Linked DNA regions of Homo sapiens: all the other regions are linked to region 4. Evidence: fine-mapped expression QTL. A gene starts in region 4. Each other region holds a variant in brackets. All regions are shown on one strand. Distances are from middle to middle.

The links. PIP is the estimated chance that this variant, and not a neighbour inherited with it, causes the effect.
Region 1: its variant is fine-mapped to the expression of GALNT2 in whole blood (TOPMed, PIP above 0.99).
Region 2: its variant is fine-mapped to the expression of GALNT2 in thyroid (GTEx, PIP above 0.99).
Region 3: its variant is fine-mapped to the expression of GALNT2 in whole blood (TOPMed, PIP above 0.99).

What each region holds. Positions count from the first base shown.
Region 1 is chr1:230,275,596-230,283,203 of GRCh38, reverse strand. GALNT2 (polypeptide N-acetylgalactosaminyltransferase 2) reads right to left here. Exons shown (of 16, transcript NM_004481.5): 16 at 1,082-3,901. The coding sequence ends at 3,746. Among named protein-coding and RNA genes, the nearest start is that of PGBD5, 150 kb to the left of the region's middle. RefSeq lists an enhancer at 745-904. The variant G/A (reference allele first, on the strand shown) is at 3,657.
Region 2 is chr1:230,133,886-230,141,493 of GRCh38, reverse strand. All of the region lies in intron 1 of GALNT2 (polypeptide N-acetylgalactosaminyltransferase 2), which reads right to left. Among named protein-coding and RNA genes, the nearest start is that of GALNT2, 70 kb to the right of the region's middle. RefSeq lists enhancers at 606-1,198, 3,576-4,076, 4,077-4,577. The variant G/T (reference allele first, on the strand shown) is at 4,553.
Region 3 is chr1:230,150,426-230,158,033 of GRCh38, reverse strand. The region is part of intron 1 of GALNT2 (polypeptide N-acetylgalactosaminyltransferase 2); the gene reads right to left. Among named protein-coding and RNA genes, the nearest start is that of GALNT2, 87 kb to the right of the region's middle. RefSeq lists an enhancer at 7,583-7,608. The variant GACAC/C (reference allele first, on the strand shown) is at 3,931.
Region 4 is chr1:230,063,258-230,070,865 of GRCh38, reverse strand. GALNT2 (polypeptide N-acetylgalactosaminyltransferase 2) reads right to left here and starts at 3,628. Exons shown (of 16, transcript NM_004481.5): 1 at 3,460-3,628. The coding sequence starts at 3,585. RefSeq lists enhancers at 1,819-1,898, 4,253-4,412 and silencers at 2,813-2,872, 3,313-4,122.

The DNA.
Region 1 (7,608 bases), 210 kb before region 4:
ACAGAGGTTGCAGTGAGCCAAGATTGCACCACTGCGCTCCAGCCTGGGCGACAAAGTGAGACTCTGTCTTGAAAAAAAAATTGTTAAATAATTGGTCAAGGTTATGTTTCCTTGAACCCTTGTGGGGCTGTTCAAATGTAGGTACTTTTGCTTCTGTTGTTGAGATGGGAATCTTACTTCGTTGCCCAGGCTGGTCTTAAACTCCTGGGCTAAGCGATCCTCCTGCCTCAGCCTCCTGAATAGCTGGGATTACAGGCACGCACTACTGTGGCCTGGCTCAAATGCAGGAATTTAAAAGGTACCGAAGGTCAGGTGCAGTGGCTCACGCCTGTAATCCCAGCACTTTGGGAGGCCGAAGCTGGCGGATCACTTGAGGTCAGGAGTTCAAGACCAGCCTGGCCAATATGGTGAAACCTCATCTCTACTAAAAATTCAAAACATTAGCCAGGTATGGTGGTGAGTGCCTGTAATCCCAGCTACCTTGGAGGCTGAAGCGGGAGAATCGCTGGAATCACTGAGGCGGAGGTTGCAGTGAGTCGAGATTGCGCCGCCACACTCCAGCCTAGGTGACTCCGTCTCAAAAAAAATAAAATAAAACAAATAGTATCTGAAGAACCTCAGAGACGCCTGGATGGAACCGAAGAGCCCCAGGTAACTGGTAAACAAGTCTATAAATCTTAACTACTTGAAAAACTGTAAAAATATTTGTCCCCTGGTTTGGAGCACAGGGTCTGGGTGCGAGTGCCAAGGGCTGGCTCCAGGCAGGTACACAGGAAGGACGTGACCTTGAGCAGGCTAGCAACTTCCTTCACCAGCTTCCCCTGTGGCTGTAAAATGCAAATGTATTTAAGGGCTTGGCTGGGTGCCTGGCACATCATAAACACTCCACAAATGATAATGATTATTATTACAAGTAAGAATAACCAACCAAAGGGCACAGCAATAAAAGCGCATCTGCAAAAGGTGATAAGAAACAGCCACTGAGCAGGAGCTGCAGAAGGCTGACCCCAATCCCAGTCCCCACACCCACCCCACCCAGCCCTCACACACCAGGACAGACTCTGGCCAGCAAAGAGCGGTATCTAGAAAGTATCTTCTCTTTATTTAAGTTAAACAATTTTCAAGGATGGTTTCCATCTATAAAATGGACAAAGTACAAGCTCTGTACAGCAGTTCTTTTTAAAAATCAACTGGAAAAAAAAATTACCAAACTATATTTTGAATTTGCAAAACATACTCACAGATACCATCATCTGAGCTTTTATGAGGACATAAGAAAGGACCAGCACAGAGAAGACAACTAACTTCGGCACGCTTTGCTCGAAGGGCTCTTAGGAAAGAATTCTGAGTTTTAAAAACAGGAGTGGGAGGGTGAGATAGTCCTGATGATTAAAAACTAACGCAACCGCAGTAAGTCACTTTGGCACACTGTGTCATGTAAACATAGCTCACCGCAAAGGACCCCTCCCCGGCCCACCCCTGCTCTTGACGCCCGGACCATCCAAAGCCGCCTCCCAGCTCAGGGACAGGACGCCGCCCCCAGGGCATGGGCCGCACAAGGGTCTGGGTAGACACGTGGGATGATAGGAAGGCTGAGAGGGCCTAGGGGTGCGGGCGGGGTAAAGGTGAAGGGGCAAAGGATTCGTCAGAAAACGTGATTTTAAAACGAGCCAGATTCATCCATTTCCCTCCTTACAGTAGTAGCAGCTCGCAGGTCACAGGGTCTGACAGAAGAACCTGGGTGCTGGGGGCTACGCACACCCTGCTCTGGCCTGCACTCCACAGCCTCGCACAGGTACCTAAGGGGGTTTTCCTCAGGCTCCCCCCGAGCGCCCACCGTGAAAGACAGAAGCGTGCGGAGTTACTCCAGCGTGGGGGCACGCTGCCCACTCACAACACATCTGGTTGCATGGCAGGGGAGGCGGGAAGAGAAGACCTATAGGGCAGCCCTCCAGCCAGGCTTCCACCTCGGGGCCGCTGTCCTACAGTGCACACATGTGGGGCTCCCGCCGGGGAGGAAGACACACAGTGGCCCCTTTCATACAAGACACAGGGAGGAGCATGGCACCGGCACAACCTCCCAGGGTGGCTCCTAACTCCAAGGCCGCCGCTGTCCCACCGAGGGGCCTGCAGGTGTGCCTAACTGACGCTTTTCTCAGACTGCCAGGCCGTGCCAGCCTCTCTGAGACTGAGCATCTGTGTGTGCGGCGCTGGAGAAGGCGGCCAGGAGTGGAGGAGGAAGCAGGGCACCGACCACAGAGTGGCAGGGGTGACGAGGAACATTCCTGAGCACCCAGGTAGAAGCCAGGCACCTCTCCCCGTTATGACTTTCAGTTCATAACTGTCTGTGGTTTAACAGGACCCCAAGGCTCCTGTCTCCCGCCCTGAATCCTCAGTGTAAATGAGCAGGTATTGTTTGGTTCTGACCCTTCCTAATTCTTTCCCCAAAGCCCCCTGAAGCAGTCATCTTGGCCAGGCGGGGTGTGGGAGGGAGCTGCGGGCGGGGCAGGACTCGCTGCCTGGCTGGAGCTCCCCAGGCCAGCAGGTGTGCAGGACTGTGAGCCAGGCCTGTGCCCTGGCTGACGGGCTCATCCCTGACACTGCTGGCCATTAATTCTGAAGGCCCAGCGTGCAGGGCTCAGATCACAATGAAGCCAATACTAGCGTGTGACAGCTGCCTGGCATCATTGGTCTGCCCTGTCGCCAGGGGGCAGCGGTATTGCTGGCTCACACAGAGCTATGGGGTATGTCTTATATTCCTTAGAGAAAAGAAATTTAATGTAAAAAGACCCAAAGTGATATCTGTCAAAATAAGTAACCGCTCCAGGTTCACAGATACGCACAGCACGCAAGGTGGATTCTGACGCACAGTAGGGACTCTCAGGCTGACGCCCAACAGGGATGCCGGGGCCGAGGCCGGTGGTCTGGAGGAAGCCCCCCAGCTGGCCACAGCAGTAGCACCAACTGGCTGATCGGGCTCCAGGGGACAAAGGCCACCTCCTCCCTCTGTGAGAAACTGGCCCCACCGGGCTCTGGCCCCTTCTCCCGGAAGCTGCGAACGGCTTTGTGGGGAATATACAAGATGACGATGATCTACAGAAACCATAGGGAACTGACCGTACATTCTTTCTCTATATAGCTTTATATTTAGTGTCCCACCATAGAAAACTTCATCCTCAATATAGCAAGTACATGAGGTGGAGGGGAGTCTGGCCCAGGAAGACACTTGCGAATGGAGGAGCAGAGAGAGGGACTATTGACGTAAACCTGCCACGTGACACGACTCGGCTTTGTGGAAACCATACGTGATTTCGAAGGGATTGAAAATGGAGATTTCAAGAGTTCTCCTCGCTCCCCTGGGGCATGTGTGCCCCCTCCTCCCGCCCTGTCCTCAGCTCGCACGCATCCGTTCAGTTGCTTCTACCACTCCCCAGTCGGTTGTCGCTGGGTGTCACTCAGTTGCGGAGCCGGCAGAAGTGAAAGCTGGAAGGAAGAGGGGCGCTCCGGCCTGGGGAAGGGGGCCCGGCTGGGCTGCACCGAGAGGAGGGGGAGGGCAGTTCTCGCTTCTTGCCGCTGCTGTGTCTGCACAGTCGTCCGTGCCTTGCCGAAGTTTGACTTTCAGACCATGATGGAATACTGAGGTATATTAGTTTCGC[G/A]GAAAGTTTAAGAAACATAATCAATAATGTGATCACCAGACTCCACCCAATGGTGCAGGAGACAGGACGGCAGGGCCTCCCGGACCCTCCTACTGCTGCAGGTTGAGCGTGAACTTCCACTGCTGCGAAAGGGCCGGGCCACACACCTCCACGCTTAGGCCCCCGCTCTTGGCCGTGCGACTGTCCAGGCACAGGTTGCTGCCCACGTGCCTCAGCTTGGAGTTGCCCTCGATCTGTTCCCATTTCTGCAAGACACAGGAGAGTGCCTTAGAGTGTGGGCACAAGCAAAGGAGTACAAACAGATTCGTGTGAATTCAGGACCTTGTGGCTGCATTAAAAACTCACAGATAGACACGTTTTTCCCAGCCTCTCATCTGAACGGCCGAGGAGCTTGCAGCAGCCCCACAGGAAACCAGCCACAGGTGCTGCTGGGACCCAGGAAGGAAACATATTCTCTGCCTTGGATCAAAACTCAGAACGTCTCCTGCCCCAAACTTTCTGTGGGTGTCCCCTCCTCTGAGCCCCAGAGCTCTGGGCACCCACCCCTTCGTCATTAACACAGGATTTGATGTAGGGGAATTTGCATGCCTTCGTATGAAAGCTTGATCCAGTGATGGTTCACCCCAAGAAGGGATCCACACAATGCAGGGCCAGATCCTCCCCTGGCTGTTGGAAAGCAGCCCTGCCTGGAGGCCTTGGTCTGGGCACCTCCATGCTCCCACTTAGGGCTTTCTGCTCGGGGGAGCCAGAGGAACGGTGTCAGGCCAAATGTCAGGAAGAGAGATGGTTGTTTGAACAGAACATAGCATTGAGAAGCCTATTTCTATGTAGTCTGTTCTCTACTGGTGTGCAAGCTCCTTGGTGGATATGAGAAACTTGTCTCTGCTACCCTTGAGCCCCCTGGTGCTCTGTATGGCAGGGACCAATGTTTGCTGAGTTCTGAACATGCCGCTTGTAAAGTACAGGGTACGATGCCTCTTTACTAACACTCAAATCAAGCGAACAACCAAACTCAACCCACATACCCGTTACCCACCAACTAAGCCAGAATCAAAGTGCACAACCCAGCCTGAAGGAAATCTGAGGAGCCCTGTTTAGCAAGTAACATAAATACCCCTTTCAGCCTGAGTGCAGGCGGCTCACGACACTAATCCCAGCACTTTGGGAGGCCGAGGCAGGAAGATCGCTTGAGGCCAGGAGTTCAAGACCAGCCTGGGCAACATAGCAAGAACCCATCTCTACAAACATTTTTTTTAAAAAAAATTAGCAGGGCATGGTGGTGCATGCCTGTTGTCCTAGCTCCTTGCAGGCTGAGGTGGGAGGATCGCTTGGGCACAGGAGTTCGAGGCTGCAGTGAGCTATGGTCATACCCACCCCTGCACTCCAGTCTTAAGCAACAGAGTGAGATCCTGTCTCTTAAAAAAAAAAAAAAAAAGAAAGAAAAACAGAAAAATCCCCCTTTAAAAATCTCTAATGTTTGTTCTTAAAAAAAAAAAGTAACATTTTTTTCTTCCCCAAAGCTCGTTTCAAATAATGAAGTCTGTGGTTCTAATTAATTTTTTATACTGTGTGCACGAAAGCTCCTTCACCTAAGTATTTTTTGCAAATCCTTTTGACATTGCAGAATTAAATTTTCTCACTCCTGCCTCCCTTTCCCCTTTGACTCTGCAAATATGCACAACATATGAAAACATGGACGTGCCTGGAAACCAAATGTTCCAACTGGCAAAGCCAGTTCAGTTCCAAGATAAAATTTGCTAAGGAGCTTCCTCTTGAGGGGCCAGTGAGTGAGGCAGGGAGGAGCCGGTGCAGGCAGAGGAGCCCAGTGCTGGGGACCCGACCTGCGCGAAACACCACAAGGATGTTGTCACTTGTACCCTGCTTTCCTTATTTCCGTCCACCTGCTCACCTGGAGTTCTTGCCAGCAGGGAAAGACAGTGCAATCAGAGGAGCCGGGGAGGCTTTTGCTAAGTGCCTGTCATTGCCTCTTTCATTTCCAGCTCCCTCGTTGCTGTCAATCACCCCTCATGCTGTTTTTCCCCATTGTCATGTAAAGTGTGTATGTATTGAGGCTGCCCTGTTACTCTGAGCAGCCAGGAATCTTCTCAACAAAGAATTCGGAATGAACGGAATCTGATTCTGGCCACTGGAGGGACTGCCTGTCATGTGTCAAAGCATCAGCTAAATCAAGAACCTTAGAAAAACAACAACAAAACCCCAGCTCCGTCTCGCACAGGTGGCCTTGTGGGCTCTGATCTGTCTGTCTGATGGGATTGTGGTTGGGGGTGGGGAGCGCAGATTTTCAAGGCAGTCAGACTCTACTGAAACAGCCCCCACATCCTCTCTAATAGCCTGAGTCTTGGGGTTTAAAACCTAACAGATCCCCATTTATACATGCCATACATCCAGAAAAACTTATTATTTATAGGTCTTTTCATGCTTCACAAAGGTCCTAAGCCGTGTCAGTTATGGTTCCCCAAAACTGGGACTGAAGCAGAAACACCTGTCAATTCTTGAAATTAAGCAATATTGAAGTAATATTTGTTTTTTAAAAAGGTGTCAACTAAAGTCATCACTTTATCAATCCATTACATCCAAAGACATCTCTGCTCCGTTACATCCCAGGGGAATGTGTTTGAGACTCACCCAGTACTTGGCTCAGCAGATGCCAGCCTTGCCCTCGAGGAGCTTCCTCTCGAGGGGCCAATGAGTGAGGCAATTTCTAGGTGGTTTGGGTCCAAGCGGTGCTAGCCTTCTCTTGTTTAACAGGCACTCCCTTACACATTTTGGTATCAAGTCATCAACACAGATGGACATTTAGAGATGCGGATTGTGAGCAGAACCCTAGAGAGGGGCTCCCACTGCCAGGACAGGCTGGGACTCTGCAGAGCAGGGAAGGAGGAGCACCCAGAGCTGGCGCAGGGGTTTGGAGACAGACAGGTGAAAGAGGGCCCTCTGCAGGCGTCTCCCTGACAACTGGGGTCAGAACCGGGGACTCGGTCCTGGCCTTGGTCTTCCCAGATGACTCCAGGGTGGAGGCAATGACTTTCTGAGACTTTTCTGTTGTGAAATCAGGGTTAGACTAGAAGCTGGCTTAGGCTCTTGGCTCCAGTAGGTTCTGTGCCTCAGTTTCCCTACATCCCATCTATCTCTAAGGACCGACTGTAAGAACAGGGGCAGGCACTCCAAGTATGGGCATACAGGGAGGACCTTTTGTGCTTGCATTTCTATTCCTGACACTAACTGTTACCCCATGCCTTGAGAAAGGGTGTGTCCACAAGCTGCCACAAGGGAATACGTCAGAGAAAACCGGCTTACAAGGCAGGTAGAAAGTCTATTCTGAAATGTTTAAAGAAACTGTGTGTATATGTGTGTGTGTGTATATATGTATATATATGTGGTGTGTATATATATGTATATATCTGTGGTGTCTATATATGTATATATGTGTTTATATATGTATATATATGTGGCATGTATATATACGTATATATATGTGGCATGTATATACGTATATATATGTGGCATGTATATATACGTATATATATGTGGCATGTATATATACGTATATATATGTGGCATGTATATATACGTATATATATGTGGCATGTATATATGTATGTATCTGTGGTGTCTATGTATATATGTGGTGTTTATATATGTATATATCTGTGGCATTTATATATGTATATCTATGTGGCATGTATATACATGTATATATGTGGCATGTATATTTGTATATATATGTGGCATGTATATATATGTATATATCTGTGGTGTATGTATATATGTATATATATGTGGTGTTTGTATATATATATGTGGTGTGTATATGTGGTGTGTATATATATGTGGTGTTTACATATGTATACATGTGGCATGTATATATGTTGTGCTTGTATATCTATGTGGCGTATATATATGTGGTGTTTATATAAATGTAGCATGTATC
Region 2 (7,608 bases), 71 kb before region 4:
AGACAGAAAGTAGAATGGTGGTTGCCAGGGGGAGGGGAGGGGAGAAGGGAGTCAGTGTTTAATGAGACAGAGTTTCAGTTTTGCAAGATGAAAGAGTTCTGTGGATGCGTGAGGATACTGAGCTGTAAATTTAAGGATGGTTAAGACAGCAAATTTTATGATGTATGTATTTTACCAACTTTTAAGGATTAAAAACAAAGTAAGGAACCCAGCCCGGGTCTGGAGCCAGAGCCTGTACGAGTCCCTTCTGCGCAGTGTTAAGATGGGCAGGATCTCTCCTTTCAGCTGTAATATTAAGACTCCAGGACACACTGTCAACAAATGTTGCCAACAAAATAAATCAGTTCCTACTAATCTCCTGTGGGGTGATCCAATTCACATTCACTCACATTCCCCTTGAAGAAACAGAATGTCTTTAAGCATGGTTACCTACAGATCTATGCATTCTTGTTTCGTTTGTCATTTGTTTCAAAATAGACACACATTTGCAACGAATGCTGGAATTTTTCAATGATGACACAAAAGCAGAGAAAATAAGAATATAGCTATTTCAGAACTAGAAAGGATACGTATCTTCCCTTCCACACTATCACTTGGTAATGGAAAAGAGGTCCTCTGAATACACTGAAATACTGTACAGCTGGGTTGTATAATGGCATATACTACTGGGAGTCACATTATTTTGTGTTTTGCTACATGATTTAGACAATTCATTTACTACTGAGTTATGCACAAGCTTTTCCCTGAGGAAAAGGGGAAGGGAGGGGTGAGGAGAAAGGTTCGAATGATCTCTAAACACTTGACACAGACAGAACTCATTGTGGGAGGGGAGAAGATAAAACCATAATACACGTTTGCAGAGAAGCCTCCAGCTGTGGCAGCGCGTCACTCCAGGAAGCACAGGCTGGAGGAAGGGGGAAGTTTCCCGAGCACCACTGACAGTACTCCCGGTTCCGAGGCTGGATTTCTATAGCAACGGACAGCAGCTTCACGGGAAGTCACGCTCCACTGTGCTCCCATCCCCTCAGTAGGACAGGGACCACTCTCTGTCACCTAGGCACTGCTGTCCAGGGGCTGGGGCACTGGGAAGGGCAGGGACTTGGCCCAGGGCAGTGGAGCCAGGCAGTGGCAGGGGTAGGAATCCAACTCCAGGCCTTGGCCAAACCTACCAGCCACACTACTGTCTGTGTACACACTACTGGCAGGGACTGTTGCCTGGTTAACCATCACCTGTCTCCAAACATGAAGCACAGGCTGGCAGAGGTGAGCCATCCCCTAAACCCAAGCCTTGGGATTCATTCCTCCTCTCAGGCAGAGGTGAGCTGGCCATTAAAAAGCCGACCCCCAAGGGGAAGAAAGGGGTGTCCAAGAAGCAGACAGAAGCCCCGTGGGGGAGGGCGCACTCAGCAGACAGTTCCAGTACAGCTGACGCAGGGACCCGGCAGCCTGGACCAGGCACAGCCTCTCTGGGCCTGGGGTGGTCGCAGGATGTCTGAGGAAGGCTGGGCTGATTCATCTTTATGGTCCCTTCCTCCCAGGGCTACGCAATTCTGTGAGTCTGTGGATGTACAACCTGAATGACCAGCCCACAGGACAATTAAAGGTTCCCAGGAGCTGAAAGAACTTCATTCCAAGTAGATTATTTCCGCAACAGCCCAAAGCAAAACAACTCTCCATAAACCTGAGTAATCTTCATAGGTGGGAACGAAACTGGATTTCCTTTAATACACCAGTTCATCCTTCCTTACCCCTTAGTCCATGCAACGGCAAATTATTACGCTCGCAGTGCTTTGCTTGTATTTTCCTTGGAATTTTACCAAAAAACAAAAAATCCCTTACTATTCTACTGCTCTTTCCATTGGTGGCCATTTTCTTACAATTCTAGCTGTTGTCAGTGGAACAGGTGCTGGTTCTGGACTGCCTGATAGGCTTACAGTGGCTCCCCTCCAGGCCCAGTGCCAGCAGCCCTGCTGCAGAATAACCGTCCTCCCTTCATGGGGCAGGAGGAGTGAGGCGTTGCTGAAGGCAGAGGCTGAGACCCTGAACTCCAGGCTGCACTGTGCTGTCTTAGCCTAGAAGAGGGGTCTTGGTGTGTCCCATGCAGCTTGGAAGTTGTGGCAGGGAACCGAGAGGGATAAACTTCTCATCAGAAGGGACACATGTGGCCAGGAAGGAGCACTTGGCTTCAACGATAACATCGGGATTCTTCAGATTTAGCAAGAGGACCCTGATTGTTCTCATCTAAATGTCTTCATTTAAATATAAATCTCTGAAATGGGGATTATTAGATACCTTTCAAACAGTAAGGTGAGGGGACCAAAGCCGGGTAAAGTGGCTGTCAATGGTCAACAGGAAGTAGCAGCTAGAAAAAGCCAGAAGCTCTTGTTGGTCTCCTCACACCATAACCCCCGTGAGGGTAGACACTGAGTGCTCATGTCAGATGTGTTTGAACCAGAGTGACTCCATCTTGAATAGGGTAAAATGAGGCTGAGACCTACTGGCTGCATTCCCAGGAGGTTAGGCGTTCTCAGTCACAGGATAAGACAAGAGGTCAGCATGAGATACAGGTCATAAAGAACCCACTGATAAACAAAACAGGATGCAGTGAAGAAGCTGCCAAAACCCACCAAAACCAAGATGGCTACAAAAGCCACACCTGGTCATCCTCACTGCTCATTATATGCTAATTATAACACAATAGCTAAAAGACGCTCCCATCAGTGCCATGACAGTTTACAAATGCCATGGCAACGTCAAGAAGTTACCGTAGATGGTCTAAAAGAGGGAGGAACCTTCAGTTCCAGGAAAATCCCTGCCCCTTTCCCACGAAACTCATAAAAAGCCCACCTCTTATTTAGCATATGATCAAGAAATAACCATAAGTATACTCAGTCAAGCTGCCCATGCCACTGCTCTGCCTATGGAGTGGCCATTCTTTCTTCTGTTTCATTTTTTTTTTTTTTTTTTTTGAGACAGAGTCTCGCTGCATCGCCCAGGCTGGGGTGCAGAGGCGTGATCTCAGCTCACTGCAACCTCCACCTCCTGGGTTCAAGCGATTCTCCTGCCTCAGCCTCCCAAGTAGCTGGGATTACAGGCACGCACCACCATGCCTGGCTAATTTTTGTGTTTTTAGTAGAGATGGGGTTTCACCATGTTGACCAGGCTGGTCTCTTACTCCTGACCTCAGGTGATCCGCCCATCTTGGCCTCCCAAGGTGCTGGGAATACAGGCGCTCTGAGCCACCATGCCTGGCCCTGTTTATTTTCTTAATAAACTCGCTTTCACTTTACTCCATGGACTCACCCTGAATTCTTTCTTGTGCAAGATCCAAGAACCGTCCTTTGGGGTCTGGATGAGGACCCCTTTCCAGTAACACTTGGGCAATGGCAGATGAAAGGAGAAGAGGCCACAGACAGAGGTCTGGAAAAGACGCACGCAACGACATGCAAGGTGTTTTTTCTATTAAGTCATCACTGAACAAATTCCAAGGAGAAAAAGGTAAAATGGATGCAGGAGGATTAGAATGAAGCACTACTGCTTGTAAAACAAATCAAAACTAAGAACCTAGGAAACGATAATAATGCTGTTTAAAGACTTGAAGGAAATCTCTATTTCCAACAACGTCAACAGAAATCAAAGGAGAATATATTTCACTTTTCAAGAGTGAAAGATAATAAAAGTCAAACCCTATACAACATCAATCCTGAGCCAAATCCTATCTTATCTCTACTTTTTTCTTCTCCTTTTCAACGTGTGTAGCTAAACCAGGTTGCAATCTAGAGCTGGACTCGTCCAGAAAGCCTGGCAAACATCCACAGCTGTGACAAGATGCTGACGAGCCTGTTGCAGTGGGGTCTTGATGCTTCCACTGGGGAGGAATCAGGAGAATGTAAGTAAAAAGCAATGAAACTTCTGCAAATAATTAAGTAATTCACATCCACCCCTTGAAGAGAAAATAATTCCTCCCTTGTCACTGTGACAGCCTCGGCTGGCTGCCCAGCTGAGAACACCCAGCAAGCACCCTCTCAGCAAAGCCAGGTGGGGAGGGGAGAGGTCAGCCACTGCAGCCTGCAGGCTCTCTGACCATGGGCACCTCCACAGCAGACCCTCCCAGCCACCAAGGACATCTGGCCCAAACACAGCATGAAGCAGAAGTGGCTTCGGCCATATCCACCACCTCTGTGCAGGCTGTCACACAGAACCAACCCCACCCCAGCCTACGTGAAGCTCCATGCTGGAGCCCCAGAGCAGCGGGACAGATCACTGATTCCCTTCTATGAAGCATGTGTGCCTCCCTGCATCCACTCAGGCTCCAGTGAAAAGCACTATTTGGCTCCCCCAAAGCTTATTGGGTGCAGGCGGGGGTGGGAACAGTCCACACGCCTCAGCTCCACTCCCCAGGGAAATGAGTATGAAAACAGGAGCTCCAGCAGGAAAGAATCAGCCTTTTGGTTCAAGGAAACGGTCTCTTAGCTTCGGAATAGCCCACTGACTATGGAAAAATGCTCTCGCCCCCAACCACGCAGGGCCTGTGTGTCTGGCTTCGCTGTCC[G/T]TGAGGTGAAAGCATCCGTGAAGCAGAGTCCCGGCTGAACTGCGGGAAAAGCAAAATGCACAGACGGCCGGCTCTTCGGTCTGAGGGTGATTTCAACCTGTTCTTGTTGAATGACCTTGGACCAGATAAATGCCATTGAGCTTCCCGTACAATGGCACTAGCAGCAACCTCTTCCCACTCGCCTCTCTCCAAGTCCCTGTGAAGCTACAAACAAGCGGTGTTTGGAAAATTCTAATAATAGCATCAAAGCGGAACGTTGCCCCCGTTATTTCTGAAGTCCTCTCTCAGACCCAGCGCTCCTGAAGGGGCGCGGCAGAGCAGAGCCGCTGCGGAGTGTGTGATCTGAAGACAACGCCTCCCTCATTAGGGCTGGACATATTCCGACAGGGCAGGCTGTGGCTCTGGATGGGGGGCAGTGAGGGGGTGCATGCATGTGCTGGAACTCACATCCGGGAGAGAAAGCGCGGCAGACAGGCCTCACGAATGAATGTGTGTTTTGAAACATTAGGTTCGATGTCTAAAGAGTACAATTCAACAACTCAGGCCACCAGGAACAGGCCCCACTCTCTCCTGGAGCTCTATGGCAGGGTTATCAGAGGATGGCTGGTGCCAGACATGTGCTGACAGGGATCTGGGACAGTCAGACCAGAAGCAAATGATCAGGCGCGACCCAATCAACGTGGCACTAAAACAATGCGTGCAGGTTCGATCATAGTTACCTGACCCACCCCCAGAAGAGTGAAAACCTAAATTTCCTCTGCTCTGTCACCCTCCAACTCCTGAGAAGATGGGAAGGAGGTGACGCTGACTAAGTGCCTCCTCTATACCCAGGAAACTCTGCTAGGGCTTACACATGCAGCTCATTCAATTCTCCTGACAACGCTCCAGAATATATCCTTTTATCCTCACTTTACAGAAGAGAAAACTAAGGATCAGAAAGAGAGCACTTGGCCAGGTACAGCAGCTCACGCCTGTAATCCTAACACTTTGGGAGGCGGAGGTGGGGAGCTCGCCTGAGACCAGGAGTTCAGGACCAGCCTGGGCAACACAGTGAGACCCCCATCTATAAAAAAAAAAAAAATGAAAAAGTTAGCCAGGCGTGGTGGTGCACACCTGTAGTCCCAGCTACTTAGGAGGGTGAAGCAAGAGGATTGCTTGAACCCAGGAGGTCGAGGCTGCCACACCACTGCACTCCAGCCTGGGTGACACAGGGAGACTGTGTCTCAAGGAAAGGGAAAGGGAAAGAGCATTCATCTGAGATCCCTCAAGTGATAAATGGCAGAGACTGAATTCAAATCCAGAGCCGAGCCTGCCAGACTGCAAAGGGCCCCCCACACTCAGCTCCACAAGGGAGCAGGAAGATGTGCATGTCATTAAGATCATTTTGTGCCTCCACCTCCCCGCCGTGTGATTTCCACACAGAAACCTGATTCGGATGGCTTCTGTGGCTCATGCCTGACAATTCACCGAAAGAAAAGTAAAAAGCACCTCAGATGAATTCAGAGTTTCTCTGTTAGCACAACGGAAATGAGATGAAGAAAGCTGGAAAATGGTTTCTCTTCTGAAACATGCATCGCAAAGTAGAATTACAAAGAGAAAATAGAGCCACAGGAATCGGCCCAAAATGAAGATTCTGTATCATTAGAGAATAAAATATGGGTATCCATGACTGTCTTCCTCTACACCCCTCGCATCCCCACCCCCGAGTCTAGGACACTGTCTCTACCATTTCTCACCCCCCATGAGAGTCAGGACCAAACACCAATTCCAGGATGCATGGCTTTTCCTGTTCCGACATCTCTGAAATGGGGAATGCATCTTAAAATTGACAAAATGATGGTGCATCTTACAACCCTTAGCACCTAAAGGCTCAAATTAATACATTAATATTGCTTTGAAATTATGTGAGGGCAATGCTTTAGATGATTTGAAACACTCTCAGATACTTCCTCTCATTTAAGCCTCACAACAGGCAGGCCAAATAGGTTTTTAGTTCACACTGATCATACTTAAATACAGCGGAGAAACTGGCTGACACAGACAACTCAGTGATTTGTCTAAGCAAGTGGTAGCACCAAGACTGGCCTTGGATTTTCTGAGCACTGGGTCCACGGGGAGGAATCCAATACTGAAGTGCAGATGACACGGGAGAGATGCTGGTGGGCTTGCCCCGATACCTCACCTGCTCGCTGCTGTATCACCCCACGCCCAGCTCCTCTCAGTCACACAGCCAAGCAGGCGAAGAGTACAACTGTGAAATGTCTCATGAGCTGATACAGAAGGAGTTTATAAATATTGAGCACTACTGGCCTTAAAAAAAGCTGCTCCTCTCCACCAGGTCTGGGTTGGATACCCTCCTCCTGGGCCCAACCCAGAATGAGGGGAGGTTTGAGAGGGATACACCACAGATAGATAGATACAGCTTCTCTGAAACCAAAGAAATAACAAATGGTTGTCTCACCTGAACAACTGGTTAGGAATTGGGGGAAGGGGATAAAACCAACTTAGAGCTGCACTTCTCAAAAATACCAAATAGGCCAGGTGCAGTGGCTCACACCTGTAATCCCAGCACTTTGGGAGGCCAAGGCGGGCGGATCATGAGGTCAGGAGATTGAGACCACCCTGGCTAACGTGGTGAAACCCCGTCTCTACTAAAAATACAAAAATTAGCTGGGCATGGTGGCATGAGCCTGTAGTCCCAGCTATTCGGGAGGCTGAGGCAGGAGAATGGCGTGAACCCGGGAGGCAGAGCTTGCAGTGAGCTGAGATTGCGCCACTGCATTCCAGCCTGGTGACAGAGTGAGACTCTGCCAAAAAAAAAAAAAAAAACAGATTCAGGTGGATGAAGAGTTAAATATCAAAATCAAGCAAACCAACCAAGTATCAGAGTAATATGTAATTAAGTATTACTTACCTGATCTCTGGTTGAGACAAGCATTTCTAAGCTTAAAAGAAATGGAGGAAACCAGAAAGCAAAAGGATGAGAATTTAACTACATAAAGTTAAGTCTCCTCTCTATTTAAAAAAAAGGAAAAGTGTGGGGAAAATATTACCTA
Region 3 (7,608 bases), 87 kb before region 4:
CTTCTCACTTCCCTGACTTGGCTTATGATTTTTTTTCTCTGCTTTTAAATTAAAAGTATAATTTACATACAGTAAAATTCACTCTTCTTAGTATCCAGATCTGGGAGCTTTGACATCTGCATATAGTCATGCAACCACCACCACAATCAAGATATAGAACAGTGCCACCATCCTCCAAAACTCCCCTGAGTACATTTGTAGTTAACTCTCTTCTCCAGCCCCTGGCAATCCTTGATCTGCTTTCTCTGTAGTTTTGCCTTTTCCAGAATGTCATATGAATAGAAGTATACAGTATGTAGCCTTTGGACCTGGCTTCTTAATGCACATAATGTACAGAGATCCATCCACATTGTGTGAACCGTGCTTGTCTCCTTTCCACTGCAGGAGGTATCCCGCCACATGCTGCATTCCACCATGTACGCAAACCACAGCTTGTTCATCCATTCCCCAGTCGTGGGACAGTTACGTAGTTTCCAGTTTTGGCAAATATGAATAATGCCATTATGAATCCCAAGAGCACATAAATTTCCATTTCCCTTGGATAATATCTAAGGGTGGGATTACTGCGTTGTATGAGAACATGTGTTTAGCTTTATAAGAAACTGCTCAACTATTTTCCAAAGTGGTTGTACCATTTTGCATTCCCACTGGCAAGGGATAAGAGTTCCAGCTGCTCTATGTCCTTGCCAGTACTTGGTGGCATTTTTGCTTTTTTTCCCCCCAAAGCCACTCCCCTAGGTGTATAGTGACATAATGCAGCTTTCTATAAGTTTGCTATAATGGTGCTTACGACACGCCAGGTATCATGCTCAATGGTTCACACACATCTCAATTAATGCTCACTCAATACTACACAGTAAGTTCCAATGTTTTCTCTGCTTTTAAATGCATCTAAACTGAAGTGGCATCTGAACCAAGGTCAAATGACCACAGTACACGAGGCCTTAAATGAGAGCCCTCCTGGGATGGTCTTATTTACTCCTGCAGGGATTCTCCACAATTCTCTCAGGCTCTGACTCAATGTTACCTCTTTCGTGATAGTTTCTCCAAATCAAAACATAATACAGCCCAGTCTGACCTTGCCTCTTACTGCACTTGATCAGCTCTCTAATGATAGAACCAAAGTATTTTCAAAACAGTTGATGTTTCTTATCTCCCAAACAAGACGGCTAGCTTCCTCAGGCCAGAGGATCTGTCTCCCCAACATTTCATCTTCACATTTTAGGGACTGACTGAAATGAATCAGAGTGTGTAGACAGTGTTCTGACATCAAAGGATGAGATGTGCTATTAAAAAAAACCACCACCAACTTGCTTACCATGGCCCCGAGTTCCACATTGCTTTCTAAAGCCACAACCTGCAGGTTACATTCTGCCCCTGCATTAGAAAGTTAAGCAAATTTAACTGCAGAAAATGTGATAGTTTAAGGGCCAAAAAAATAAATTGATCCGTGACAAACGATAATAAAATATCCAGCATCTAGGAAGCATGTTGAAAATGCTGGCAACTTTATGAAGGAATAATCAATTTTAGGAAACGAACGTTGAAGGTAAAGAAACGCAAAAAGGAGTCTCTTGAGTGAACTCACCAATGAATATATCCTACCAAGGACAAGCTGACTTCCCTAGGATGACATTGCAAACCAGTGTGGAAGCCAGAAACAGGCCTAAAATGACACGGTGAACTTCAGCCATGTAACCAGCCCAATATGTACAATGCAAGGAGTTTTCTCCCCAAGATTCAGGATCCAGGTCTTTGCTGTAAAACACACACACACACACACACACACTCTCTCTCTCTTTCTCTCTCTCTCTCTCTCTCTCCCTCGTCTGCTCCCCCATCCCAAAACCGCACCGTCTCCAGACATCAACCCCAGAAGGTCATCACCACCCAGAGGCCAGGTCTACGTGGTATTCCACTTGTATCTAAAATCAATGACTCTCTCTTCTCTTCCCCACCCTAAAAACACAAAAGCTTTACTCTTCTATCACCCACCCACAGACTGAGCCCCATGACCAGGACACAGTCTCTCCCACCCAGACAGAGCCCACCACACAGGCCCTTAGCACTGATCCCATGGTTTTCCTGATCTGACACAATAGTTCCCTCCCCTCTCCATGTGGCAAAATCACTACAGAATTAGTCCTTTTAAAGCAAGGCTTTTGTCCTCCACTCAGAACTCCTGAGTGAACTGGAGGTTGACGCCGAATGTCTTAGCGACCCTCAGAGTGCCCTCACGACCTGGCCCTCAATCTAATCTCTCTCTTCCAGTCAGGATGGGCCATTTGTGATCTTCTGTGGGGTCCTTTGTGCTATGCACTTGGGAGCCCAGTTTTGGGGTTATAATCACTCTTTCTCTTAGAAATGGTCTTCAAATGACAAAAGCTCCAGTCCTCACAAAACCTAGCTCTGCCCATGGGACTGTCCTGGGAGAGTCCTGCCCTGTCCCTCCCAGCCCCAAAGGAGGAGACCCTGTCCTGATTCAGTCATTCCTGATCTGTTTTGGAAGATCCTGAAAGAAGCTAAAATTTCTTTATCTTGACCCTCTCTGAATAAGGCAGTTTTTAAAACAGCTACAGGTTGAATTGTATTCCAATTTTCAGTTCAAGGACAGCCAGCTGAAATGATGACCGGGATTAAGAGATGAGCTATAATTAGGGAGAGGCCGGTCTCTCCCGGAGGTCAGCGGCTGCAGGCAGGGCCCACCTCCGAGCGAAAACCTGCAGGGAGCCCTAGGCAGCCAACGAAGAACAGGGCGGGCAGGAGCCAGCACAAGGGCTCTCACAACCCCATGCAGGCCCCAAACGGTGACTGCCTCAGGACTTCCGCTCCACAGATGTGAGAGAAAGTGACGCTCTCACACAGAAGGGAAACCGAGGACCTGGGAAATACTTCCGCAGAAAACTGCACGCGGAAACGGGGTGGGGGGTGCATGCGGCGCGGGGCAGCCTCATCTGGGAGGACCCTGATGTTTGGAAACCAAAGCCCCAGCCCCAGACCAAGACCCCATCCAGCAAAGACCCTGTGGTCAGAGAAAGTCTTTTTAAGTGCTAGTACGTAAATATTAGAACTGCAAGGGGCCTTGGATGTCATGCCAAATGATAAAACCACAAGTTACCAATGTGATAAGGTGAGTTATAAATAACCTGACAGAGACTACCTGAGTAAGTATGCCAGGGCTGCCATAATAAAGTACTACAAACTGGGAGGCTTCAGGAACAGAAACACACTTTCTCACAGTTCTGGAAGTCTGCGCTCAAGGGGCGACAGGGTTTGTTCCTTCCGAGGGCCATGGGGGAAGATGCTGTTCCAGGCCTCTCTCCTTGGCTTAGAGGTGGTGCCTGTTGTCTATTCTCTTGTCACTGTCTTCCCTCCACGTGTGTCTGGCTCTGTCTGAATCCCCCATTTCATAAGGACACCAGTCATACTAGAGCCCATGCTGACGACCACATTTTAATTTGATTATATCTATAAAGATCTTATCTCCAAATAAAGTGACATTCTGAGGTCCTGGGGGTTAGGGCTTCATTGTCCCATAATACTACCTTCTCTCCCAGAAATTTCTCAGAAGGGGCAGAATAGGCAAATATAAGGGGGTCCAGAGATCTCTCACCTGTGCCGGTTTGGCACATTCCTTCTGACTCAAGATTATTTCTTAAAAATACCAACGGCATCAGCTCTGTACCAACTCGGGGAAAGCCAGAGCAGAGGGTGATGAGCTAAAGGGCCGGGGTTTCTTTTCTAGTAAGAATGTGGCCCACGTGGAGAAAAACTTATCCACTGTGGACGAAGGGCCTATGTCTCCACTGCAAGTGCAGGGTGGACGGCAGCTTGACTTCTGACAAGACTGAATGGTGAAATATTGAAAATGTACAAAATCCACATCCCCGTTGCACAATGGCAATATGCTCTTGGCCTCACAGCTCACCA[GACAC/C]TGATTATGCAAGCTCTTTTCAAAAAGCACTGAGGCCCCAAGAAGCTAATCTGACAGAGACTTATTATTCTCCAAACAATGGGTGAAAAGAGAAACCATTTCTGAGTCTTTATAAGGTAGACACCCACGCAGACAGACCCACACGATAAATCTGCATGAGAGTTTGTAAGAGGCACTGGGCACCAGTAGCTTTTTTGTTGTTGTTTTGTTTTTACCAGTAGCTTTTATGAACATATCAGTTCCACCAGACCCCTCCACAGAGTGAATGGTGAGTGCCACCAACCAGGGGCCCCCGAGGCCACGCCAGGAGGCCCAGGAGTGGGAACAAAGGCTGTAATCCATCTCCAAGAGCGGAGTGGCCTCGGCCAGACAGACTGAGCTCACTGTGTCTGACAAAAGAAACTTTTCACAACTGAGACCTCTGGGTTGGAATCATGAAAAGAACTCAGGGGCGTGGGGCTGGAAGGGTACTTAGGGGCCTGATGATTGGTGAATCTGGAAGGCGTCCTCAGATGTTCTCGATGAATTAATTCCCCAGCCCTTTCAAAAAACACCACCAAGGCCACTGTAATGCTTGCTTCTACACAGAAAGCATTATGGGTGTTTTTTCTTTTTCTCTAATACATGAAAATGTGCTTACTGTGATTAAAAATAAAACTAAAAACGCAAAGAGACCCTTAAAATGTTGAAGGCTGACCCCCCATCAATGACTGTTTAAGTGTGTAGGTGTCCAGTCTGACTACAGAAACACTCCCGCATGTAAGGAGAAAAGAACCGATCATTAGCAGACATCTGAGTTTGTCTCAGGCATGGCAATGGGCCTATTCATTTTCATTCTCTCATTTAATTTTATCTCATTTAAATGTATTCAGGCCAGGGGCAGTGGCTCAGGCCTATAGTCTCAGCTACTCCACAGACTGAGATAAGAAGATCGCTTGAGCACAAGAGTTTGAGATTACAGTGAGCCATGATCACGCCACTGCACTCCAGCCTGGACAACACGGTAAGACCTCATCTCTAAAAATAAAAATAATAAATAAAATGTAAATAAGTATTCAGAAGGACTGAACGCAGTTTAGCCAAGTCACCAAGTATTGATTATGCTTCACTCACAGTGGACAAACACACTGAAGGCACAGAAAGATGGAGTGATTTTCCCTAAACCACAGCCAGAGAGAAGGCCATAGATACAGGCAGCAGGGCAAGAAGCTAAAGCCTGAGGAAGCAAAGGAAGTCCAAGAAAGGTGAGCAAATGAACATCACGTTAGAGCCAAGGACAGGGCTGGCGCAGATGGTCACTGCCTCACAATGACAAGCGGTTCAAAGAGGAAGCTACCTGAGAGTGGACGCAGGCTGAGGAGTGTCCCACTCACACAAAACACGAGTCTGTGTAGGAGAAGGATTATCTAGTTCTCTCATAGCTTCTTCTTATTTCCCTCCTGGCTATGCACTATCCTAGCAGCTTTCAAACTTTTTTGCCAAAACCCATAGTAACAAATAAATTTGATGTAGACATCCATCCCCCAAACCATGTATTTAAATATATACGTTATATAAATACATGCACGCCCATCCATCCACATACGGTGTCATAAAAGGGTACCTACTCTTACATGTATGATGTGCTCCAGTATTTTCTATTTAATTATTCATCATGAATACTGATGTTATTCTCCTCTATTAGTTTCATGATCTACTGAGTCACAACTTACAATTTGAAAAACCTTGCCCTCATCTTTGAAAGAGTCAGGTTCGAGATTCTAGCCAAGTGTCGGATGCGCTTACAGGCCATGGTTCCAAGCCCGACTGGGGATTCAAAGAAGTAAAAGGGAACCCATCAGCCTGAGCCCCCTGAGAGCTTTACTTTTGTCAGAGGCATGTGAGCCAAAGCAACTCCATCTTGAATAGGAGTTGGGTAAAATGAGGCTAAAACCTACTGGGCTGCATTCCCAGACAGTTAAGGCATTCTAAGTCACAGGATGAGATAGGAGATCGGCACAAAATAAGGTCATAAAGACCTTGCTGATAAGACAGGCTACAGTAAAGGAGCCGGCCAAAACCCACCAAAACCAAGATGGCCACAGGAATGACCTCTGGTCGTCCTCACTGCTACACTTCCACCAGCACCATGATAATTCACAAATGCCATGGCAATGTCAGGAAGTTACCCTATATGGTCTAAAAAGGAGAGGCATGAATAATCCACCCCTTGTTTAGCATATCATCAAGAAATAGCCATAGAAATGGGCGACCAGCAGCTCTCGAGGCTGCTCTGTCTATGGAACAGCCATTCTTTTATTCCTTTACTTTTGTAATAAACTTTTCACTTTGCACTACGGACTTGCTCTGAATTCTTTCTTGAGCGAGATCCAAGAACCCTCTCTTGGGGTCTGGATCGGGACCCCTTTCCTGTAACACTGGTTCATCTGTAGTTGAAGCCATCAATGAACTGAGGAGCTCTGCTTTCCTTCCTTAGCTTACGTGGTGGGCACAGGGACATGTGGGGAGATCCTACAGAAGAAGGCACTGCTGTAGAGAGAATCAGAAATTCTCCTCCCAGGGCTATCTTGGGGAGGCCGGGTAGTCAGAAAATCATTGCTTCTTCAGGAAACAGCACTGTTTACAAAACAACTAGACCATGCATTACTTCGAGGGCATCATCCTGTGCCCCAAAGCCACCTTACATATCTGGCTTGGCCATCATCCTGAGCTTCCTGGAGGCACTACGTGGACAATCCGACCCTCATCTTCTACCATCACCCTGTCACGGGTGTGCAGCGCTGTGCTGCGATGTCAACGGTGGTCAGAGCAAGTGACACAACAGTGCGTTCTACTGGGACACTTCTCCAGGGGCCTTCCCTCCAGGAGGACATCCCGGAGGTCCAGAAAGCTGCAGGGGAATGGAGGGAAAAGACAACGGTGGCCACGGTGATCGTCAACTGTAATCATTATGTTGGCAAAGCTATAAAATCAAACCCAGGACACCACACAAGATCCTGAACATATTTCCACAAGAGGAAGAATATTGTGCTCCAGGCAACCCAGGTAGTGCACCTTAAATAGGAAAGAGTTCAACAAGTCACACAAAGTTACAGACACCTGCATGCCGGGTGCACCAGCCTCGTCCTGAGGAGTTGAGAATGGTGGCCCTGGCTGGGAATTCTCTAAGTTGCTCTGCCACTGGGAAAATAGATTCCTTAGGGAAGCAAAGAAAACGATGGATTCCTTTGTGCTCAGAAGACAGCAGGCTTCCATCCAGAAAACTGCACAGTCAGGGCCAAGCAGTCAAAGCCCCCATTCTGAACGCCAAATCCCTGGGTGGGAAAAGGAGTGTGTGTCTGTGCCTCCCGCCATCCTAGAAGGCCAAGGAGAGGCTGAATGTCGCAGCGCATTCTCTAATGAGGAGCCAGGCACTCCAACTGCTCCACAAAGGTGTCTTAGACAGAATTATAAGTAGAGCTTAAGGTCTAAAAACAAACAAACAAAACAAAAATGCTCTACCAAAGAGATGAGACTTTCCTTTCAGAATCAAGTCACACATCCCTCCCCAATTTCCAACTCCAACTCTAACAGAGACATTCACTTCTCTGCAAAGGTTGCGGACAAAAACAAAGCGGGCAGAAAGAGGAAGTGGAAGGAGTTGTTGTACTATGTCTTTTTAAAGCAGCTGTTGG
Region 4 (7,608 bases):
TCAAAAACATTACTAGTTCCCAAATGGTTCAGCTTGGCATTTGAAGCCCGTTACAATTTAGTTCTGAATTTCTCCAACTTTACACCCTAACGTTCCCCTCCATGTGTACCATGGTCTAGCCCGGCAAGGTCCTTCACTGTTCCAAGAAATAACCTGCCCGCCTCCCCGCATGATTCCTAGAAGATCCCACCCAAAGTCCCCCACCCTTGGACTCTCGGGCAAGGGCCACAGGACTCGTGCCAGCTCAGGGAATAAGGGTGATGCTACTGTGCAAAGTGGACAGGCTCCCAGGGCTCCGGATCATGTCCCTCAACTAACACCGTCCCTTACCTCCCAGCATGCAGGCACACAGGCAAGGGGTCTCAGGCTCCACACACTCTTACAGCAGAGAGAAAACCCTTCCCTTTCCACCCTAAACAGCCACACTTCACCCACAGGCAGCTTCATTTCCAGAGAAATCCCTTCCTCTCTTCTGCGGCTCCATCCACTGCCAACGTACCAAAGCCCAGGGGAGACTTAACATGGTTAAAATTTTAAAGCATTTAAGAAGCTCAAAGGAAAGGCACGCTTGAAGTGCAAATCATCAATTTAGGGGGAAAGAGCAAAATATGGGGGGAAAGGGTATGGACACAAATGTAAATGAAACATAATTTTAAACAATATTTTGAATAAACTGCTTTAACATACATGTCCTGAGCCTGGGTGTTGAGTCCCGAGTTGTGCGGCAGTGCCTGAGATTGGTCTTCAGCACTCCCTCCTGCTTAGTTTACTAAACCTGCAATCTGAGGTGAGCTGGCTCTCTGGGTTTTGCCAAGTGGAGAATAACAGTTCTGTGATGAGTTACTTAACAGGCAGGGCACACAATGACAAGCCTGGGCTGGGCTGCTGAAGCAGCAGAAATCCTAGTTGGACTCCCCTCAGACGATCCCTAAAGCCCAATACTGCAGCCTAGTACCCTATGAAAAACGTCAGGATGTGCAGAAACTGGCTAAATATGGAATAAAAGCCCTGACTTGAACAGTATGAGGCAAGAGAAAAAATATAGGTCCACTTATCTCTAAAAAAACTATAGCTAGCTTTTAAATTCTGCCTTTCTGTGCATGGCCCGCTATCTTTTTTTATGTCCATACTTTACAAGCCAAACAAACCACATTTTTTTTTTGGTATGAGAATGAAATAAATTTAGAGACACTTCTAGTGTCTAAATCCATGGAAACAATTGGGGAAGAAAGAAGACTACACGATTTTCCTATACATCAGGCATTCGTGACAGCAGGGCTCTATTTACCTCCTTCAGAAACCATCTTAAGGCTTCTCTTTAACCCTGGGTCCACCACACGAAGTTAATGAGTCTTCCACTGCAATTTCAAAAGCTATTGCATTTACACACCTCTTCCTCAACCGACAAATCACTAAAGCATCCTAAGGGGTAGCATTAAATTTTATGGTTCGTTGACAGAAAGAATAGAATCCCAAATCACCAATCCATGTGTAATTAATTGTTCATTTCCCCCACTTTTTCTACCTGGTCTCCGTACCTGTCTATATTGCCACCAGGAATTCTTTAAAAAAAACAAAACAAAACAAAACAAAACAAAAAAAAACAAACTAAGAATCACACACTTCAGGAGTGTCTGAAGACTTCTGCATGGAAGACCCCTCACACCATCCAGGAACTGAAGCCCACCAGAGTGAGGAATCAGCCTCCGGGAGGCGAACGAGCACGCTTGCTCTTTCTAATCACGTGTACTAATGAAAGTGGCAGACTAAGGAAAGAGAAACGCCAAGGGTGGCTTATGTGTTTGGTTTTCTTTGCATGAAAGGCAGAAAGCTTTGCCAGGTCTCACCAGCACACCAGGCTATGCAGAGTGGCCAAGGCACAGTTTACCGGGAAGCAAAGTTTTAAAAATCATTCCAGTTTTACACGATTATATCTCTGAATGGACTGCACGGCTTTTGCTGCCTGCATGCTCTTTGCTGTTCAAGAATAAACCAAGTCTTCGCGTACATATACTACCTATACCATTTTTTACAAAAACAACGCTAAGAGTACAATGTCAGCTCAGAAGCTAGGCCGATTCAGCACGTGGAAAGAGGGCTTTATTTCTGCCCTTCTAGATAAAACAAATCCACGTAATTTACCAGAAACCACATAAGGCACCCATTCCACCTAACATCTTCGGCTATGAATGAATGAATGAAGCAAAGAAAAAACCTCTGAAGCAGCCAAACCCCGGCGTGGACATTTAGGGGTCTGACTTCAGAACTGAAGTCTGTTCATCTAGTTAGTTCCCTCTGGCTTGTTTCAGGATACCACTCTCTTGTTCCAACCCAACCACCCGTAGTCCATCTCCATTAACTCAGAATTTTCTGGGTTTGCGGTGACACTAAATGTCACAGTAACGAGGGTTACAGGAATTCGGAAAAGATAACGCTGCTTTCAAAGCCGAGGAGCCAGTAAAACACTACAAACGTCCCCTGCCGGCATGCTCCAGCACACAGCCCGACGCCCTGCTCTCCCGGCCGGCGCTCGGCCGCAGGACCGCGCTGTCCCGGCTCCTCTCGGCGCTCACCATCCTCCCGAATGCCCAGGGCCCGGCCGTCCGGAGCGGCGGCACGAGGACGCGGAACCGCAGAGCGGCTCACACGGTCCCCACAGCCAGATCACTCGGCCCCTGGAGCATGTTAAAAACACAGCCACAGAAGAGGGATTCTCCCTGAAGCGGGGAGTGGGGATGGAAAATGCAAGCGCAGGAGGCCACGTCCGGCTCGCGCGGGAGGGCCGGGGGCCGGGTTGGGCAGAGGGTAACGCTGGGGCCGCAAGGGAACGGCCGGGACTGGCCTCGCTCGGGGCGCAGGGGCGCACTGGCCCCTGGCTCGCACGGGCCCTGGGGCTTTACTTGGCACGGGAGCGGCCGCCCCTGCCCCCCAAAGGTAAAGGGCAAAGAAGGTGGCAGAAACACGGAACCCACGCCCCGCGGAGTGACAGGGGGAAAGGGACGAGGATTTGCAGCCGCTGGTATCAAAGGGCTGAAAAGAAACTTGGACTCCTCTCTCCTGCTGTACATGACGCGTTGGAAAAGCGGTCGCCTCTCTCTCCTCTCCTCCCCACCCCCTTTGTGTTTCCCAACACCCCCATCCCTAAACTTCCAACCGCAGGGGATGGGGCTCCCGGCGGCCGGACAAGACTCGAATTACGACGAGCAGAGAGAGGGGCGACGTCCACGAGAGGGGGCAGAGAAAGGCTGCGGGGGCCGCCCTTTCGGAGCCCGGCGTGCGCAGAGGGGCCGGGTGCACCCCTGCCCTGGGCACTCGGCGCGGAGGCCCGGGACGAGGGCGGGCGACGCGAGCGGAGGTCCGGGCGGAGGAGCGCAGGGGCGGCGCGGAGAGGGCAGGGGACAGGGGCGCAGGGTGGGGGGTGGGCGCAGGGGCCCGGCCGCGGCAGGGCGCTCCACTCACCTTCCTGCCGGCGCCGCCGCCCGCGCCCCCGGCCAGCGCAGAGCCGCCCCCCGAGTACATGTAGTAGGCGATGCCCAGCACCCACAGGAAGGCGAAGCAGAGCAGCATCCGCGAGCGCCGCCGCATTCTCCCAACTCGGCCGCCGGCGGGGCCGCCGCTGCTCGCGAGTGCTGCCTGGGCCGGCCGCGGGCGCGGTGGGGGCCGGGGGAGGAGCGGAGGAAGGGGAAGGGCGCGGCGGCGGCTCCTCCTCCCGCGCGGTGCTACTGCTCGGCGGCGGCGCGCACTCGGCGCCCGAGCTCCGCCCCGGGCCGGCGGCGCCGCGCGGCACCAGAGCAGGAAGCAGCGGCCTCGGAGGCGGCGAGGGGGGTCAGGGAGCAAAGGGCGACCAATCGGCGGCGGCTGCGGGGGCCGGGGCGCGGGCCGCGGGAGGGGACTGCCGCGTCTCCATGGCTGCAGCACGCCGGGCTCCGCCGTGAGGGCCTGGGCGCCGCCCCGCCCCCGGCCGCCCGCCCCTCAGCGTGCTCCCCCCGCCGGCCGCCCCCTCCCCCGTGAGTGACAGGTGGCTGCCCCGGGACCCGACTGGAGCGCGCGCACACGTGGGCAAAGAGCCTTGCTCACGCACACGGGGCCTCTCGATTACGGGGGCGGTAGTGGCCTCGGTGCTTCCTGCCCAGACTGTCACCTCTTCAGCCTTGGTCTTTGGGGCCACCTCAGACCCTTAACGGGCTTGCTCTTATTGGCCAACTGACCTGAGTTTTTGGTGCAAACCGCCCGCTTGAACCCGACTTTGCTGCTGCTTGCTGCAGTTTTCTCACTAATCTTGCAGCAAAACATTCCTGACCCGCTGGTATCGATTTTATTTATCTATATAGGCAGATGTGGAGGTTTTGAGTTGGTAGGAACTGAGAAGGTAATTTTCAAAAGAACATTTTTCTGTGGGTGACAGAGCTATCAATGGTAGAGTTGTTCTTTTCAATAAACACAAAATGAGGAAGAAGGAAAGCAATAATATATTGTTTAAAATCTTTTCTTTCTCATTCGTTGCGTTCTTTAAAAAGCACATTAAGCATCTTTAACGATACAAGAAAACGATCTGTCTTGTAACATAATCTATGTAACCTTGGTGATGCCCTTGCAACACGCAAAGCTTCCAGTGTTCCTAAGAAAGACAGAAATTTTACTTAGAACTTGATATATTAAATGTTTTCAGGAGCTTCTCGGTCAGAGGATAATGGCAGCTGCCTGATATAAGTCCGTACCCATATCCTCAACGAAACAAAAACAAGCCTTCAGCATTACTTAGAGAGAATGCCATGAACTGAACATTAAATTACTTAAGTAGAAGAAAGAAAAGATACCAAATTCCAACTGAGCTCCCTCCACTATTGCCAAGGACTTAAGTGAAGTACAGGGTTGTCACCTCTTTATAAATAGAAAGTCCAACACCAAGAACTAAAAACTGAACAGAGGTCAGGTGCCTTATTGATCAAGGGAAGAGATTTGAAAGAAAATGGGACAAGAGGTGAGAGGCTTGAAGGAGCCTTGTTTCTGGGAAAAAGTCAGATAAATACGAAAAGAAGATAATGTCCTTCAGAGGCCTGACAATGAAGGGAAAGAAGGAAGTCAGAAGGGAAAATTACAAATCCTGCAGAAATGAAAGAGAAGACAGCCAGTCCCCTCCCCAAACACCAACATTATCTATTAAAAACTGCATTTCAGTACACAGATAAAAGAAAACACTCTTGAACCGGGAACCCTGCCTCAAAATGCCTAGTAACAGAAAAACATCAAATCAACTGCATTTAAAGATTCTGCAAAAAGAAAACAGAAATCACATTTCTGATGATAAAAAATAAATCATAACATTTTCGCTGATGAAAACCCCCACAATAAAAACCATGAAGCATAAGAAAATTGTAATACCACATGTCAAACTGAACAAAGTGTCACGTATTTGTATACACATACACACACACACACATATCTAGGATAAGAAATTTCAAGAACTGAAGACAGACTAGACAAAAATTAGGAAGAAATGCAACAAGGGTTGAGCAAATTCAAGAAGGAAATTGAAAGTAATGACAAAAACTATCCCAGAAACAAAGAATAATTACAAGGTGTCCAAGGGAAAATATATTCAAATGAAAATATGTAAAAGGACACTGAAGAATGGCAAGAAAACAATCAAGAAATTGAAAATAATATAAAGATAGAAGTAAAAAGGTTCAGAGAGAAGAGGTTAAAATAAAAGCCAGGAAAGGAAGACCAAAATACATGTTAAGTGGAGTCCCTAAAGTACAAACATTAAACAATAAAACCTAATTAATATTAAAACTATAACCCCAGAAAATAATCCAGGAATAAGGGAAAATTTAAATGTACATGTCAAAAGTGACTTCCATGTACCTTGGGAAATGATCTGGAATTATCAACTCCTAAATATATTTTAGTAAAACGATTAGATTTTAAAGGCAAAAAAGATCAAATTGCTTATAGAGATAAAAATTTATGCTGGCATCAGACTTCTGAACAGCAACATGCAAAGCCAGGCAACAGTGGAGCAGCATTAACAAGGAACAAAAGTGCCAGGCAGGCTGGGCATAGTGGCTCATGCCTGTAATCCCAGCACTTTGGGAGGCCAGAGTGGGTGGATCACCTGAGGTCAGGAGTTCAAGACCAGCCTGGCCAAAGTGGTGAAACCCCATCACTAAAAAAAATATGAAACTTAGCCGGCAGGTGCCTGTAATCGCAGCTACTCGAGAGGCTGAGGTGGAAGAATCATTTGAACCCGGGAGGCAGAGGTTGCAGTGAGCTGAGATCATGCCATTGCACTCCAGCCTGGGTGACAGAGCGAGACTCCATGACACACACACAAAAAAGTACCAGGCAGTGATTTTTATACCCAGCCCTCAAGTGTCAAGGTTGTAGGCAAACAGATATGACCTGAATGCAAAAATTCAGAGAACGTGACTCACATGGGCCTTTCATGAGGAATCTTAGAGAATGAGCTTCCTCCAACCAAGAGACAGCTGAGGAAGCCAGCAGAGTGACTAATGGAGAGCATTTTGTATATTCAGAAGGTGAAAGACTAGTGTATATACATTATACTTTCTGATAAACTTAGAACAGGTGCAACTAAAGACAACTGGAGGAGAAGGGGAAGAGCGAAGGGAAAATAGAATAATATCATTGTCTGCAATATCAGTAGCAGGTAGTAGTGAAAGGATACCATATAAAACAGACAGACCAGATGTTAAAAGGTTAGAAACAAAATATAGGAATTAAGGGTAATATATTAAAAATATAAATAAAAATCACTACAACAAAATATATGTATTCCCAAATATTGGAAACCCTATTCCAAAACCCCAAAAGTTCTAAAAATAGCAAAGAATACATACCAAATAATGAAAGAAACACAGTAAGTGTGGCACAGTGATGCAGTAGTTATAATAGGAAACAATATGACACAGCTGAGACCAACCCACATCAGATATAACAATTTATAAGTGGGCTCAGTTCACCCTTTAAAATAAAAGATTTTCAAATGTAGGCATAACGGAAACCCCAACTCTGAAAAAGCAGGTGCTGTGATTCTGATATCAAACAAAACAGAGTAGGCCAAAAAGCATTAAATGAGATGAAGAGGGACAATTTATAGCCCAAAACTTCCCTTCCTAAACACTTATCAATTGTATATCATTAGGATTTGATCTGCAAAGTAAAATCATTATTAGTTTGATGGAATAAGCGATGTATGATAGAGATTAAACTTTAGACAATGTTAGAGGTAGAAGAAAAAAGGTTATGGAAGTCTTTCCATTGTACATGGGGCAGGTCTGAAGTCACTGTAGTTTCTAGACCTGGGAATCAGAAGAATAGCTAGATGTGACATGGGGCATTTCAAAGACAAAGTCAAAACTGCAAGGACAAAATGTACCTCATGAGAACAACTAGAATTCATGAGGACAAACTGTAATGTACCTCCAGTGTTGATTATGGAAATAAAAAACAAAACACAACAAAAACCCACAGTGAGATACCACTTCATATCCATTAGGATAGCTATTATATAAAATTTTTTTTTTTTTTTTTGGTGGACACTTGCTCTGTCGCCGAGGCTAAAGTGCAGTGGCACAATCTCGG